Linked DNA regions of Homo sapiens: region 1 is linked to region 2. The links come from fine-mapping of genetic effects on plasma protein levels. Region 2 holds a variant in brackets. A gene starts in the other region. All regions are shown on their forward strands. Region 1 holds the start of IFIT3 (interferon induced protein with tetratricopeptide repeats 3). Region 2 overlaps CGAS (cyclic GMP-AMP synthase).

The links. A credible set is the group of variants that fine-mapping cannot tell apart. PIP is the posterior inclusion probability: the model's chance that the variant is causal. The UK Biobank Pharma Proteomics Project read protein levels with antibody pairs (Olink). The fine-mapping took linkage between variants from a reference panel, not from the people measured, so its PIPs are less certain.
Region 1: it holds the start of IFIT3, and the variant in region 2 is the best candidate, but not a certain one, in a credible set for the plasma level of the IFIT3 protein (UK Biobank, PIP 0.59).

The regions. Positions count from the first base shown.
Region 1 is chr10:89,326,375-89,329,298 of GRCh38, forward strand. It overlaps IFIT3 (interferon induced protein with tetratricopeptide repeats 3), which reads left to right and starts at 1,623. Exons shown (of 2, transcript NM_001549.6): 1 at 1,623-1,704. The coding sequence starts at 1,700. It also overlaps a transcript of LIPA not described here. RefSeq lists an enhancer at 1,391-1,630 and a silencer at 1,951-2,000.
Region 2 is chr6:73,444,402-73,447,325 of GRCh38, forward strand. It overlaps CGAS (cyclic GMP-AMP synthase), which reads right to left. Exons shown (of 5, transcript NM_138441.3): 2 at 1,127-1,346. Among named protein-coding and RNA genes, the nearest start is that of CGAS, 6.4 kb to the right of the region's middle. The variant G/T (reference allele first, on the strand shown) is at 1,222.

The sequences.
Region 1 (2,924 bases), not on the chromosome of region 2:
CTAAAAATATTAAGACAATTGAACTTATGGAGATAGAGATTAGAATGATGATTACTAGAGGCTGGGAAGAGTAGTAGCGGGGGAAGTGGGGATGGTTAATGGGTACAAAAATATACTTAGATAGAATTAATAAGATCTAGTGTTTGTTAGAACAAGAGGATGACTATAGTCAACAATAGTTTATTGCACATTTCAAAATAACTAAAAGAGTATAATTGGATTGTTTGTAATACAAAGAATAAATGCTTGAAGTCATTTACCCTGATGTGATTATTACTCATTGTATGCTCGCATCAAATATCTCATGTACCCCATAAATATATATATCTACTATGTGTCCACAAAAAATTTTTAAAAATAATAAGAATTGGCTTAAAAAATGCTGTTTCCTGGGCCCCACCCTAGACTGATGGTCAGATACCTAATGTTGACAAAAAAAGTCAAACTCTGTAAAACATTTGAAGAGATTTATTCTAAGCCAAATATGAATGACCTATGGCCTGTGACACAGCCCTCAGGAGATCCTGAGAACATGTGCCAGGCCACAACTTGGTTTTATACATTTTAGGGAGACATAAGGCATCAATCAATACATGTAAGGTGTACATTGGCTAGGTCCAGAAAGGTGGGACAATTGGAAACAGGGAAGCGGGGCAGCTTCCAAGTCATAGGCAGATTCAAAGATTTTCTGATTGACAATTTGTTGAAAGAGTTATTATCAATAGAAAGGAATGTTTGGAGACATCCAATAGAAATTCAATAGACAATCATTAGAAAGGAATGTCTGGGTCGTGGAGACCAAGGTTTTATTATGCAGATGAAGCCTCCAAGTAGCAGGCTTCAGAGAGAATAGGTTGTAAATGTTTCTTAATACACTTAAAAAGAGCATGTTCTGGCTGGGTGCAGTGGCTCATGCCTGTAATCCCAGCACTTTGGGAGGCCAAGGTGGTTGGATCACCTGCTATCAGGAGTTCAAGACCAGCCTGACCAACATGGCGAAACCTCGTCTCTACTAAAAATACAAATATTAGCCGGGCATGGTGGTGGGTGCCTGTAATCCCAGCTACTCGGGAGGCTGAGGCAAGAGAATCACTTGAACCCAGGAGGCAGAGGTTGCAGTGAGACGCAATCATGCCACTGCATTCCAGCCTGGGCAACAGAGTAAGACTCTGTCTCAAAAAAAAACAAAAACAAAAACAAAAAAAGAGTGTGTTCTATTAGTAATTCCAAAAGGAAAAAGGATGTAATGAGGCATATCCAGCTTCCCCTTCACATCAGTTTTCAGGTTAACTTTGGAATGCCCTTGGCCAAAAGCAGGGGTCCAGTCACATGGTTGGTGAGTATGGCCTTAGAATTTAATTTTTTGGTTTACATTAGGAATGCTTCCACATTCTCTCAAACAAATTTTAGTCACAGTTTTGAATAACGTACTCTGGCTCAGCCATTGCAGGTCTCAAGCCGTTAGGTTTCATTTTCCTCCTCCCAACGATTTTAAATTAGTTTCACTTTCCAGTTTCCTCTTCCTTCCCCTAAAAGCAATTACTCAAAAACGGAGAAAACATCAGCTGATGCGTGCCCTACTCTCCCACCCCTTTATATAGTTCCTTCAGTATTTACTTGAGGCAGACAGGAAGACTTCTGAAGAACAAATCAGCCTGGTCACCAGCTTTTCGGAACAGCAGAGACACAGAGGGCAGTCATGAGGTCAGTGAAATAAGAATGCATAATCATGCTTGTTTTTGAGTGCAAATTGTAAGTTGAGTTTCTTACTGTGCAGGCACATTCCTGAATTGTCCTGATGTTTATAGATTCAATATGTCTTTATCAGTCTGAGCATTTGTAAGATGTTTGAGGGGTTTTTCCCTGTGGCTTTTTTTGGTGTACACACAGGCTTCTTAAGTTTCTGGAATGGTTCCCTACGGAACTACATGGGGGGAGGCAGGGTGGGGAATGCATCAGCTCATGTTTCCTCCCTGTGTGCAGCTATTTCCTGCAATGAGAGGAAGGCTTGGCAGGAGCGGTGTATTTCACTCAGCCACAAACTTGGCTGATTCAAGGGTAGACCTAAGGGAATTACTCTTTTGGGTTTTTCTGTTATTGTCATTTTGTTTGAAAAGATTAAGTCACAGGCTTTTTTTCTTGTAATTTTAAAAGGAGGAATTTATTTTCAACAGATATTGTGAAAGATACAATCAGTACTGCAAACCCACTCATGAAGAAGGCAATTTTGCCCTGAAACGTTGCATTACTTTAAGGTGGGAAGTGGAAGAAACAATTCTTACAAATGGGCATTTTTGTCATTTCTTATATAAAAACAAACCCAAAGCTTAGCATTTATTTTTATTGATGTAGTGAATGCTGGTCAGCAGCAAAAAAAGAATTTCTCCTCAAAAGTGTAATGACCTAATCTATTATCTAAAACTAGTCTAATCTCTAATGGTGGGAAGCAGATCAGTGGTTGCCTGGAGATGGTGGGGATTGAGTAGGAAGGCTCCCAAAAGAATCTTTTTAGAATCATAGGAATAGTCTATAGGGAGGTAGTGATGGTGGCTACATATGCATAAACATTTACCAAAACTCATCAGACTATACACTGAAAATGGGTGCATCTTATTGTATATAAAGCATAATCTCAGTAAACTTGATTTTTAAATTTATATATTGACCTCCTGGAGTTCTTCAGGGGATAGCATGTTAGGGAGAACTAAGAGAAAAGGATGCCTTTCCCACCAAGCATCTCTAGGAAAGGAGTGAGGAGGTGATTGCCAGGGAGGGAAGACCCCATCGACCATTCAGGGGGGCAGAAAAGGAAAACTGGATTCCCTACCTTACTCTGCCCCAAGGACTTGAAGATGCTCTGCAATGTCATGTTTGGGGATGAGATGGGTAAGAGGAATTCACTGCCAAATACCTCAGTATATAGA
Region 2 (2,924 bases):
AGGTTGAAGCAATTCTCCTGCCTCAGCCTCCCAAGTAGCTGGGATTACAGACATGTGCCACCACACCCGGCTAATTTTTGTATTTTTAGTAGAGATGGGGTTTCTCCATGTTGGCCAGGCTGGTCTCAAACTCCTGAGCTCAGGTGATCCACGCACCTCAGCCTCCCAAAGTGCTGGGATTACAGGTGTGAGCCACTGCGCCTGGCACCAGATTTTATTATCTGATCATTGAGAAGCCAGGTTTTCATCAGAGAGTAATGACTGGCTTTGTATTTTAAAACATTTACTCTGGCTTCTAAGGACAGATATTATAAGAAGGCAAATAGGGAGATTAGAAAGGAAAATGATGTAATAGTTCAGGTAAAAGATGGTGGCAGCTTAGGTGGGGTGGGAGTAGGGTGCTGGGATTGAAGCAGCAGACAGGTCCAAGCTGTAGCAGCACTTGCATCTGGATTAAGCGTAGGGGGTAACAGAGAGGATTAAATTAAGATGGTTCCCAGGTTTCTGGATGGTGCGTCTGGGTGGATTGATTGTGCCATTTTCTGAGATGGGAAGGACTGAGGCAAAACATAGTTTGGTATATGAATTAAGTTATGTTTATTCGCTTTGGATATGTTTGGTTATAGATTCCTGTGGTACATCAACATCAAAGTGGATATGTTAAGGACGTAGCTGGATATAGGTTTGGAGTGCAAAGGATATATTTGGGCTGCAAGTAAACATTTGGGAGTCATCATCATATAGGTGGCATTGGGAATGGATGAAATACCTAGGCAGAGAGTGTAGATTCATTTATCCATCAATTTAATAAATATTCATTGATTATTTCATATAATTTAATCATTTAATTTAATCAATATTCATTGATTATCTAATGTGTAGGTGTTCTAGTTATTTAGGATTCATTAGAGAACAAATAGATAAAGACCTCTACCCTTCTGTACTTTATAATCTTGTAATCATATTATAAGTAATTGCCAATGTACACTCCTCTACTGATGTTTCTTGACCTCTCTACTGCACTTTTTCTTACTGCAGAGAGGTCAAGAAACATGAGAATGGGAGTGTACATTGGCAATTACTAGGTATAATTAAACCTTTAAGAATCAAAAGGCAAAAGTCTTACCTTTAATGTCGTTAATTTCTTCCTTAATGATTTTCCTAAACTTTGACAGCATCTTAGAAGCTGATAATATTTCACCTTCTAAAAACTGACTCAGA[G/T]GATTTTCTTTCGGATTTCTTTTAAATTTCACAAAGTAATATGCACGAGTGTTGGAATATTCTTCTAGTTGAATTCTGGGGACTTCCAGTTTAAACATGACATCAAATTCATTAGGTGCAGAAATCTAAGAAACAGTAAAAATAGTACTGAAATATTTGCTTATGAATATTTTCCAAGTGACTGGAACTTTTTAAAAAATTTCCACTTAAAACTTTACTTTAAAAAGCAAGATTCATAATGTCTATATATACCCTCTGGGAGTGGGACTAGTGGAGCTGGCAGGAGGTGGAAGAGTATTACCAGTTTCATTTTGTAGGTTCTACACTCAATTAATTTTTTTTACCATGACCTAGTATTATTTTTATAACTAAAAATGATTTTAGGCCAAGTGCAGTGGCTCACACCTATAATTAAATTTTGTGGGGCCAGGTGCAGTGGCTCATGCCTGTAATCCCAGCACTTTGGGAGGCCAAGGCGGGCGATTCACCTGAGGTCAGGTGTTCGAGACCAGCCTGGTCCAACATGGTGAAACCCCGTCTCTACTAAAAATACAAAAATTAGCCGGGCATAGTGGCATGCGCCTGTAATCCCAGCTACTCAGGAGGCTGAAGCAGGAGAATTGCTTGAACCTAGAAGGCAGATGTTGCAGTGAGCCAAAATAGTGTCACTGTACTCCAGCCTGGGCAACAGAGCAAGACTCCATCTCAAAAAAAAAAAAAAAAAAAATTTGTGTATGATATGTGGTAGGGAATCAAGGTTCATGTTTTTCCTACATAGATATCCAATTGACCCAGCATTATTTATTGAAAAAAAAAAATCGGGCCGGGCGCGGTGGCTCACGCCTGTAATCCCAGCACTTTGGGAGGCCGAGGCGGGTGGATCATGAGGTCAGGAGATCGAGACCATCCTGGCTAACAAGGTGAAACCCCGTCTCTACTAAAAATACAAAAAAAAATTAGCCGGGCGCGGTGGCGGGCGCCTGTAGTCCCAGCTACTCGGGAGGCTGAGGCAGGAGAATGGCGTGAACCCGGGAAGCGGAGCTTGCAGTGAGCCGAGATTGCGCCACTGCAGTCCGCAGTCCCGCCGGGGCGACAGAGCGAGACTCCGTCTCAAAAAAAAAAAAAAAAAAAAAAAAAAAAAAATCGTCCTTTCAGCCAGGCGCGGTGGCTCACGCTTGTAATCCCAGTACTTTGGGAGGACGAGGCAGGCGAATCACAAGGTCAAGAGATCAAGGCCATCCTGGCCAACATGGTGGAACTTCGTCTCTATTAAAAATATGAAAATTAGCTAGGTGTGGTGGCATGCACCTGTAGTTCCAGCTACTCAGGAGGCTGAGGCAGGAGACTTGCTTGAACCCGGGAGGCGGAGGTTGCAGTGAGCCGAGATGGTACCACTGCACTCCAGCCTGGGCGACAGTGCGAGACTCCGTCTCAAAAAATAAATGAATACATATTTTAATCAGTTTGTCAATTTAATTTAAAAAACTGATCATATTTCAACTGATTGCATTAAATCTAGAACAATTTGAGGAAAAATGAACACGATATAGTTGTCAATTACTTCCTCTTCAAATTTACCCAGTTATGTTTTTAAGTTTTGAATATCTTTAGTGATATTTATTCCTAAATATTTGATTTTTAAATTGTTTTTCAAGTTTTCAGTTTTTTGTTTTTTTTTGAGACAGAGTTTCACGCTTGTCACT